Regions from separate parts of the Homo sapiens genome. Here region 1 is linked to region 2. The links come from fine-mapping of genetic effects on gene expression. A gene starts in region 2. The other region holds a variant in brackets. All regions are shown on one strand. Distances are between the middles of the regions.

Region 1 (5,358 bases), 150 kb before region 2:
GAGCTTGCAGTGAGCCGAGATCGTGCCCCTGCACTCCAGCCTGGGCGACAGAGTGAGACTGTCTCAAAAAAAAAAAAAAAAGAAAAAGAAAAAGTCCCTAGGCCAGGCACAGTGGCTCATACCTGTGATCTTGGCATGTTAGAGGCCTGAGGCTGGAGGATTGCTTGAGCAGACATTGAGGCTGCAATGAGCTGTGATTGCGCCCCTGCACTCCAGCCTGGGCAACAGAGCAAGACCCCATCTCAAAGAGAAAGAAAAGTCCCTGACGCCTGCCGTGTCCTTTGAAGCCTCCACCCCGAGCATGGAGTCTGCTGGGCTGTCACATCCAATCAGCGTCCCAGCCTGGACCCCCGGTTCCCGCTCGACAGGGGAGGAGAAACACCTTCGTGTGCTCTGAGGCTGAGGACTTTGGGTGAGGATTCCACATTTGCGCACGCGCCACCCTCTCAGCGGGGCCCGGACTCTTCACCAAGTTCTTTAGCGCCTGGAATTCAGCAAGGGCACAGTTGCTGCCTGGTCACTAAGCCCAGCGGCCCCCGTTCAGTTCTCATCACCTCCACACTCTCCATACGTAGCTCTTAGCTCTTACGATGGCCTTCTGCCTGAGCTTCCCAACCCTGTATCCTCTCAGAGCTGCCTGTCGGCTGCCCTCTGCCACGCGGGATCCTCTGCCGCCCTCTCTGCCACGCGGGACCCTCTGCCGCCCTCTTCTCTGCCACGCGGGACCCTCTGCCGCCCTCTTCTCTGCCACGCAGGACCCTCTGCTGCCCTCTTCTCTGCCACGCGGGACCCTCTGCCACCCTCTCTGCCACGCAGGACCCTCTGCCGCCCTCTTCTCTGCCACACGGGACCCTCTGCTGCCCTCCTCTGCCACGCGGGACCCTCTGCTGCCCTCTTCTCTGCTATGCGGGACCCTCTGCCGCCCTCTTCTCTGCCACGTGGGACCCTCTGCTGCCCTCTTCTCTGCCACGTGGGACCCTCTGCCGCCCTCTCTGCCACACGGGACCCTCTGCCGCCCTCTCCTCTGCCACGTGGGATCCTCTGCTGCCCTCTTCTCTGCCACGTGGGATCCTCTGCCATGCGGGACCCTCTGCCGCCCTCTCCTCTGCCGCCCTCTCCTCTGCCGCCCTCTTCTCTGCCACGCGGGACCCTCTGCCGCCCTCTCCTCTGCCACGCGGGAACCTCTGCCGCCCTCTCCTCTGCCACGCGGGACCCTCTGCCGCCCTCTCCTCTGCCACGCGGGACCCTCTGCCGCCCTCTCCTCTGCCACGCGGGACCCTCTGCCGCCCTCTCTGCCACGCAGGACCCTCTGCCGCCCTCTTCTCTGCCACGCGGGACCCTCTGCTGCCCTCTCCTCTGCCGCCCTCTTCTCTGCCGCGCGGGACCCTCTGCCGCCCTCTCCTCTGCCACGCGGGACCCTCTGCCGCCCTCTCCTCTGCCACGCGGGACCCTCTGCCACCCTCTCTGCCACGCAGGACCCTCTGCCGCCCTCTTCTCTGCCACACGGGACCCTCTGCTGCCCTCTCCTCTGCCACGCGGGACCCTCTGCTGCCCTCTCTGCCACGCGGGACCCTCTGCCGCCCTCTCCTCTGCCACGCGGGACCCTCTGCCGCCCTCTGCTATGCGGGACCCTCTGCTGCCCTCTCTTCTGCCACGCGGGACCCTCTGCCGCCCTCTCTGCCACGCAGGACCCTCTGCTGCCCTCTTCTCTGCCACCCTCTTCTCTGCCACGTGGGACCCTCTGCTGCCCTTTCCTCTGCTACGCAGGGCCCTCTGCCGCCCTCTCTGCCACACGGGACCCTCTGCCGCCCTCTCCTCTGCCACGTGGGATCCTCTGCTGCCCTCTTCTCTGCCACGTGGGATCCTCTGCCACGCGGGACCCTCTGCCGCCCTCTTCTCTGCCACGTGGGACCCTCTGCTGCCCTCTGCCACACGGGACCCTCTGCCGCCCTCTCCTCTGCTACGTGGGATCCTCTGCTGCCCTCTCCTCTGCCACGTGGGATCCTCTGCCATCTGCTCCGCGCTTTGCTTTCGGGGCTGCCTCTGTGGCTGTCTCCCTCACACCGGGGCTCCCGCCAACCCCATGAGGCAGCCCCTGTGTAAGGCTCCTGGTCAGCCAAGAGGACCCCAGCGCCCTGGAGGCTGCACCCCCATCCCTCCTGCTGTGGGGCCCTTGGTGCTCCAGGCCCGAGTCTCTCACACCGCGGCTCACCCGCTGCCCCAAGGGGCTCCGGCAGCAGGTCCAGCTCCTCCCGGGGCCTGTGACAGAACAGTTCCAGCAGGGGGCTCTCACGTCCCCACCTGCTCCCAGAGAGGTGCTTCTGTGCCCAGACATGGAACAGCTCCACAGAAAATGAGGGCACTGGCCGAGCAGGCCCAGACTCCAGAAGGGAAACCACTGAGGGTGCAGGCCCGACCCACATCACCTCGGAGTCTGTCCTCGCGGAGACGGTGATGGGCCTTTCCCTCTCTGTACAGATGAGGACACACAAGGAGCTGACTTCATGCCTGGACATTAAGCCCAGGAATTCCCAGCCTAGAGCTGGCTCTCTAGGTTGCGGGGTCTGGTCCCAGTCCAGAAACATCTCCCAAGCCACAGCTCAGGACACAGCAGGGTGGGGGTCGAGGGGGTGAGTGGGAGCTCCAGGGAGAGGCCC[C/T]TAAGGCTGTTCCCCGTCATCAGAACTTGCAGGCCAGTGGCCTCTAAAGGTACTCATTAGAGGGGTGTGGACCTCACTTGCCCAAAACCCCGGGACTGCTCAGCGCATCCTTCTGAGACGTGAGGCTGTGACCACCTGCTGCCTCAGCGTCCCCTTCTCACCCCGAACAACCTGCCTTTAACCCAACTCTCCAGACTGACACGATCCCTGTAGACTGTCAGAGCCTCGTTTGGATAGTCACAGACTACCTGGATAAAAGATAAAACATGGCCGGGCGCGGTGGCTCACGCCTGTAATTCCAGCACTTTGGGAGGCCGAGGCGAGCGGATCATCTGAGGTCAGGAGTTCAAGACCAGCCTGGCCAACATGGTGAATCCCTGTCTTTACTCAAAATACAAAAATTAGCCAGGCATGGTGGCAGGCACCTGTAGTCCCAGCTGCTCAGGAGGCTGAGGCAAGAGAATCACTTGAACCTGGGAGGCGGAGGTTGCAGTGAGCTGAGATTATGGCATTATCCTCCAGCCTGGGCGACGAGTGAAACTCCATCTCAGGAAAAAAAAAAAAAAAAAGATAAAACATGCAGAGTAGAAACCCCAGGTGGACAGATACCTGTCCCACCCAGAGAAAAGCTGGGTGGTGCCATCGACGGGCAAAAGTAGTGGAAAAGCCAGCTGCGTGTGCTGGTGCGAGATGCGTTTCCATGATGGAGGATGCCGCGCACTCAGCCTCTCCTGTTATCCTGTGGCCTGCGAGCCCTCTCTTAAGTGCACCAAGAGCAGCAAGGGACTTAGAGCAACTTCATTCACTGCTGCCCAGGCGGAAAAGGGCGCCCAGGCCCTGCAGCTGGAACTGGGTAACAGGCCGGGTGGAGACTCACACTGGATCCCACTCAGCCATGATCACAAGAACAGAGCGACTGCTGCTCGGGTCTCACGGGCGACTGACAGCAACCGGGAGCCCTGACGCCTTCCCGACACCCCCTGTTCCATCCACGAACAGGCACGCCCGCCGTTGTTTGAGTTTTTACATGTTGACACCCCCTGCTCCATCCACGAACAGGCACCCACCGTTGTTTGAGTTTTTACATGTTGACACCCCCTGTTCCATCCATGAATGGGCAGACCCGCCATCGTTTGAGTTTTTACATGTTTGTGAGTAATGTTCCATCTCAACAGCCTGGGCAACATAATGAGACCCTGTCTCTCCCAAAACAAGCAAACAAAAACCCCCAAAATTAGCTGGGCATGGTGGTGCGCGCCTGTAGTCTCAAGCTACCCGTGGGGCTGAGGTTGGAGGATGAGCCCGGGAGGTTGAGGCTGCAGTGAGCTGTGATTGTACCACGGCCCTCCAGCATGGGTGACCCTGGCTTAGGAAAATTTGTAATAATAACATCCCATCTCTCAGTTTACATGTAGAAATCTTACACATCTTTCCTAAATATCATGTAAGTCAGTCCCAGGTGTGTTATGTCCTCTGAGTCTATTCTAAATGGTTTATTTTGGATTTTTTTTTCCTTTTCTGTCAGATGCTTTAGGTACTGATTTTCTCCTCTCCGCCTGGCTGGAACATCCGTCTGCATCGGACGGGCTTCCTTCTGCACCTGTGACCTCACAAGGGCTCTCCTTGGGGAGGCAGGACCAGAGCAGCCCTGAGTAACCGGGCACAGCCGAGGAACAGGCCCCAGGGAGGCCAGGACCCGGGTCCTCACGCCTGCGGCCACAGAAGCACCGTGTCCCTGCAGCTGTGAGCCACCAGGCGTCTGGGTGGGTGGTTACTCAGCAAGTGCCAGTAGAGAAACTGGGTCCCAGAGTTGGGGTTGCTGTGGACTGGATACTTGTCCCTCACCTCCAGTTCACATGTTAAAGTCCTCACCCCCAGCAAGACAGTGTTGGAGGTGGGGCCTTTGGGAGGGGAGCAGGTTTAGAGAAGATCCTGGGGGACCCTCACGATGAGATGAGTGCCCTCATGGGAAGAGACACCGGAGCCTCCTCTCCAGGAGCACACACGGGACGGTCACATGAGCAAGAGGCTGCTGTCCGTAAGCTGGGGGTGGTCCCTCAACAGGAACTGGGTCTGTGGCACCTGGAGGCTGGACTCCCAGCCTGCAGAGCTGGGAGAAAGAAATGTCTGCTGTGAAGCCAGTCGGTCTGTGGAATTTTGACACAGCAACCTCGTCTAAGACAGGTGCCGGCAGAGCCACCTCGTCTAAGACAGGTGTTGGCAGAGCCACCTCGTCTAAGACAGCTGTTGGCAGAAGCAACACCTAAGACGCAGTGCACTGACTGCGAGTGCAGTCTGGGGCTGGAGAACAGAAACACGGGGAGGAGACTATTAGCAGAAGAAACCATGATTAGGTAGTAGTGAAAAATTTGGGTGAAAAAAATTGCCTTTGGGCGGGTGCTGTGGCCTGTGCCTCTAATCCCAGCACTTTGGGAGGCCAAGGTGGGTGGATCACCTGAGGTCAAGAGTTCAAGACCAGCCTGGCCAACATGGCAAAACCCTGTCTCTACTAAAACTACAAAAATTAGCCGGGCGTGGTGGCGGGCACCTGTAATCCCAGCTGCTCAGGAGGCTGAGACAGGAGAATCAATTGAACCCGGGAGGCAGAGGCTGCAGTAAGCCGAGATCGCACCACTGCACTCCAGCCTGAGAAACAGAACCAGGCTCTGTCTCAAAAAAAAAAAAAAAAAAAAAATTGCCT
Region 2 (5,358 bases):
CCTTCTAGCACAAGGCAACCACTAAGCTACCTTCTGTCTCTCTTGGATTGTTTATTCCGGACATTTCATAAAAAGAAAACCACACAATGTGTTTTCTTGTGACTGGCTTCTTTCAGTTACCGTAATTCTTTCAAGGTTTCTGCTGACCTTTTCATTTCAATGAAAAGTTTTTCATTTCTAGAGGTTCTATTTTTTTCTGATAAGCATGGTGATTGGTTTCATAGTGCTTTGTTCCTTATTTTAATATATCTTAAGCATAACAAATAGGTTAATTTTATATCCTATATTTGATATTTTCCATTTAGAAAGTTTGTGGTGATTTAAATCTGTTGCTCGTCACTGTCAGCTGAGTCTCACTTGGAGGCTTGCTTTCTTTAGACATGTGCTGATTTTTCATTTTGAACTCATATTTGATTCAGTTAAATCTGTGGGAACCTCAGTCCCTAAGTTGGGGCTTGCTTTCTCCAGAGTATTCATCGTTGGTTTTGCTTTTGCAAGCAGGGATGCTACTGACCTGGGACCACCCTGGCTCCCCGGAGGGCTCTGTGTGGGTGCCAAGTGGAGGGTGCAGGAGAAAGCATCCCTCGGGGCAGCCCTCAATCAATGACTCTTGGGTGTCGCTGTGAAATACCTGTTCCCTCATCCCTTGGGTGAGTTCACCTGAGGCTCACAGTTTACACCACTTCCCAGAGTACCTCTCTGGGGTCAGGCTCCATTTCCCCACTGCGGGGGGTTGCTGAGTACCACATGCTTGCCAGCCTCCTTCCCCACCCTGGACCACTTCCCCACTCCCCAGGGCTGCTATCCCCACCTCCAACCAAAGGGCTTGCTCTGGAATCCCTGCCTCAGGCTCTGCTTCCGGGACCTCAGACCCCGTGGGGGTCCAGGTCTGCCCAGGACCACTGTGAGTTTCACATCTGCCTCCTGCTCAGTGGGCAGACTTTGGGAGTCCATTATTCTATTTACTTCTTTCTTTATGGACTCAGATTTCTTTTACTTTCTTGCGAGCTCTGTATGTTTTGAAAAGAATTGTGTTTGAACCTTGATCTAGCTCTTGCCCTCTGCACCTTATGAATCTCAACTCCTCATTCAGTTCTCGGCTAAAGTATCAGGTCCTGGGAGAAGCTCTCCCTGACCCTGAGGCAAAGCACGCTCCTGTGGTGGTCTCTTGTCCATCTCGTCCTTGCCTCCACCCCTCTGGAGCCACAATGGAGCGGAGGTGTGCAGTCCCTGTAGCCCAAGCTGCTTGGGTTCCCACTTCAGCTGGGTCACCTGTCACCTGCGTCACTGTGTGACCCCGAGCAGGGAGCGCCGCCTTTCCGTGTGAGTCTCCTCATCTGTGAGATGGAAATGATACTATCTGCACAGCAGGGCTGTGGTGAGACTATAAGGAGATAATAAATATGAAGTGTCTAGAACAGGTGGAATCCATAGTACATGCTCAATAAATGTTAGCTCTGTCACATCCTGCAAAGATATGCTGCAGTAGGCATCACCATTTGTCCAAGGGGAGAGTCAGGAGGGCAGAAACCAGGTCTCTCTCCTCATGCCCTTTCCCAGGGCTCAGGGCAGGGCTAGGGCAGCAGGGAGCATGCAGTAAACATTTTCAGGTCAAATGAAAGGGAGCAGGACCAAAGGCACGATGGCAGATCGGGGCTTCCCCAGTGCCCCGGGGAGGCGGATTTCAGGCACAGGGACACGTGCAAAGGCACAGCTTTTAGGGAGCTGGAGGGCAGGGCGGGAAGGCCAAGGAAGCCGAGAAACGGGTCCAAGGCTCGGATGCTCTGGCCAGGATTTGTACCTTTACCTCCGAGTGTGGGAGTATTTGGCGACAGAAGCCCCTGGGGCTGCGGCTTCTGGTGGGGGTCTTCATGGATGCTCAGGGGAGGAGAACGGCCTGGAGCCACTGGAAACGGGGAAACGGGGAAACGGGTATGAGGTTGGGGAGGGGCGGGGAGGAGGGGGAGGGCGGGGCCCCAGGGCGGGAGTCTGACCCCAGGGGTCTGCGAACCCGGACCTGCGCGTGGCGCCGCGCCGGGTACCTCCCCCTCTCTGCGTCTTTGTGCATTTTGCTTCCTTTCGCAGTAAACGTTCTTCCGAGAAATTCCAAGGGGATCTCAGCCAAGCAGAGGGGGAAGGGATCCTGCCCACGCCTGGGTAGGGGGCCGCGGAGGCTGGGGAGGAGCAGGGGGCGCCGCGAGGGAGGGAGCGGGAACCCGAGGGAGCGCGCGCGCCAGCAAGGGGGCGCGGAGGGCCCGGGCCAGCTACCTGCGTGGGGGCCGCGAGCCCCGGGCGCCCCCCGCCCCGCGCGTCTCCCAGCCGCCCCCGCCCCCCGCGCGGCCCCCGCCCCGGCTCCGCCCCGCCCCTCGCGCGGGGTCCGCGTCTGCGGCTGCGTTCCCCGAAAGACGAGGCTGCGCCCGGATTCCGGTCCGCAGGGAGACCGAAGGGCACAGCTCCCCGCGCCGCGCACGCCGCCCGAGCCCGGAGTGCGGACACCCCCGGGATGTGAGTGAGCCCCCCGACCCCGAGGCCCGCGCTCCACGCCCCATCCGCGGTGAGCGCCGAGGCGCGCGCGGAAGGCCAAGGGAGGGGACTCGGCCCGGGGTTCCCGGCCCCCCAGCCCAGGGGTGGGGGTGGGGACCTGGCACGCGCCCCTCCCCCCAGTGGCAGGTCCCACCCGCTCCCGCCCCTGCCGCTCATTCCTGTCCGGACGCACCTGCAGCTCCCCGGGGAGAAGAGGACGCCCCCCATCCGCTCCCCCACACAGGTGCCGGCGCGGGGCGGAGGCGTCTCGAGCTGTCACCTCGCCCCAGAGGCCAGACGTCTCCCGGCGGGGATGCTGTGACGGCGGACGCTCTGGAGAAGGGGCTGGGGGTGGGGCTCTGCGAGCTCCGGGCGGACCCCGGCCTTGGATTCCGGGGAGAAGGTTGCATCCTGAGGCTGGGAAAGGAGAGGGTCTTTGGGGTCTCCTGACCGATGCTTCTCCCCTCCAGGCTTGCGCCCCAGAGGACCCGCGCCCCAAGCCCCCGCGCCGCCCCCAGGCCCACCCGGAGCATGCTGCCTGCAGCCATGAAGGGCCTCGGCCTGGCGCTGCTGGCCGTCCTGCTGTGCTCGGCGCCCGGTGAGTAGGGGGCCCGCGGGCTGGGTCAGGTGCCTGGGAGAGCCCGAGGCGCCGCGGGAGAGCCGGGTGTGGGGCTGCCACCCTCTGACGGTTCCCACCGCACTTCGCATAGAGCCCACGCCCCCTCCGGGACCCCTGCGACCCCAGCCCGGCCCTCGGCCCCTCTGCCCCGGCACTGGGCTCTCTCCAGCGCTCTTCCTCCAGGGCCTGGAACTGGTGGGCGGCTGGCCCCGCACGGAAGCCCTTGGTCATCCGTCACCTCTGAGAGCCTCCCGGGCCTCCTTTCAAATCCAGTTTGGTCCTTCACAGCTTGGAACCCACGGACCTCTGGGGGGGATATGTGAGGCGGGGCGGGAGTGTGAGGGGGGCACTGTCGGTGTGGGGTCTGTATAGCCCGTGTGTGTGTTTGTGTGTGTGTGTGCACGCACGTGCATGGGGGCCAGGGAGGGGCCATAGGGGCTCCCCTCAAACTGCCAGGATGGGGCACAGTTGTCCCAGGGCCTCTGCTCCCCCTCCAGGGGTCATGGGGGCCTGCTCCCTCCCGTGGGGTCGGGCTCTCCCAGGAGTGCCTGCAGCAGGGGGATGGGTGGGGGGCGCAGGGGGCTGCCTGGTTTGGACCCCAGTGCCTCTGGTCACCCTCCTCCCCATGCCCTGCCCAGCTCATGGCCTGTGGTGCCAGGACTGCACCCTGACCACCAACTCCAGCCATTGCACCCCAAAGCAGTGCCAGCCGTCCGACACGGTGTGTGCCAGTGTCCGAATCACCGATCCCAGCAGCAGTAAGTTGGGACTTAGGGTGGTGGGGAATGTGCTAAAAGCCAGGCTCTTGAGAGAGGTCAGAGGTGTCCTCGGAGCCCCTCTGGCCTGGGACGAGAGTGAGAGCGTGGGGCGGCAGGCAGGATACTGTCCTGCTGTCCCCCCCTGGCTCCTTGGTGGCCCTTTTCATCTAGTTGAGGCCAGCGTGGGAGGGTGGAGGGACTCGGCCCTGCCTACTGGGGCCCCGAGCTGACCCGGAGGGGCCTGGGCTGGGTCCTCGGGATGAGGCAGAGAGGGCCCAGGAGGAGCCCCCGTCCCAGGCCACGCTTTCTCTTCCCAGGCAGGAAGGATCACTCGGTGAACAAGATGTGTGCCTCCTCCTGTGACTTCGTTAAGCGACACTTTTTCTCAGACTATCTGATGGGGTTTATTAACTCTGGGATCTTAAAGGTCGACGTGGACTGCTGCGAGAAGGATTTGTGCAATGGGGCGGCAGGGGCAGGGCACAGCCCCTGGGCCCTGGCCGGGGGGCTCCTGCTCAGCCTGGGGCCTGCCCTCCTCTGGGCTGGGCCCTGATGTCTCCTCCTTCCCACGGGGCTTCTGAGCTTGCTCCCCTGAGCCTGTGGCTGCCCTCTCCCCAGCCTGGCGTGGCTGGGGCTGGGGGCAGCCTTGGCCCAGCTCCGTGGCTGTGGCCTGTGGCTCTCACTCCTCCCCCGACGTGAAGCCTCCCTGTCTCTCCGCCAGCTCTGAGTCCCAGGCAGCTGGACATCTCCAGGAAACCAGGCCATCTGGGCAGGAGGCCTGGGGATGAGGGTGGGGGGGGACCCCCAGGTCCCGGAGGGGAAGTGAAGCAACAGCCCAGCTGGAAGGGCGTCTTCTGCGGAGAAATAAAGTCACTTTTGAGTCCTGAGACCCGGGTCTGAGCCTGGGTGTCGGGGGCGGGAAAGGGTTCCTGGCAGAGAGCTGGGAATGAGGTGCTGAGGGAGCGGAGGGGCTGGGGGCAGGGCGGGCGCTCAGCCAGGATCTTGGGCTCTTGGGCTCAGGGCACTGGGGTGCTGGGTGGTTGTGCTGGGGCTGCTTGGTCCTGGTGAGGTTTAGGAGCACTTGGGGTGATGGGGTGAGAGCTGAGATGAGCAAGATCACAGGGTGGGCTTGGGGGGAGGTACCGGAATCCTGTGAGCACACCACAGACACCAGACACGCCCACAAACAGTGGTGCCCACGCAGCCAGCATGTGCACACACACTCATGCCCAGACAAGCATACAAACGGTGCCCACGCAGCCAGCATGTGCACACACACCCGTGCCCGCCCTGCTCCTTCACACACACACACCCCAGGTGCCCCGCGCACACGTGCTGGGGCATGCACATAACTGGCACAAACTGGCGTGTCCCAGTGCACGTGCCCACACCCACACGTGCATGCCCATGTCTGTGCACACCCACCCTTGTACACTCAGCGTGCAGTGCACACGGTGC

Which allele goes with the higher level. Alleles are on the strand shown, and positions count from the first base shown. SD is a standard deviation of normalised expression in the study named.
For the expression in esophagus muscle of the gene that starts at base 2,382 in region 2, T is the high allele of the variant in region 1 and C is the other (small effect, 0.39 SD a copy in GTEx).

The links. PIP is the estimated chance that this variant, and not a neighbour inherited with it, causes the effect.
Region 1: its variant is the best candidate, but not a certain one, in a credible set for the expression of LY6H in esophagus muscle (GTEx, PIP 0.89).

The regions. Positions count from the first base shown.
Region 1 is chr8:143,303,740-143,309,097 of GRCh38, reverse strand. No RefSeq gene overlaps it. Among named protein-coding and RNA genes, the nearest start is that of ZNF696, 15 kb to the right of the region's middle. RefSeq lists enhancers at 791-1,291, 1,292-1,792. The variant C/T (reference allele first, on the strand shown) is at 2,658.
Region 2 is chr8:143,157,345-143,162,702 of GRCh38, reverse strand. It overlaps LY6H (lymphocyte antigen 6 family member H), which reads left to right and starts at 2,382. Exons shown (of 4, transcript NM_001135655.2): 1 at 2,382-2,505; 2 at 2,994-3,121; 3 at 3,781-3,900; 4 at 4,218-4,787. The coding sequence starts at 2,504. The coding sequence ends at 4,453. LOC124902035 (a long non-coding RNA gene) reads right to left here and starts at 2,834. Exons shown (of 2, transcript XR_007061136.1): 1 at 2,717-2,834; 2 at 1-1,906.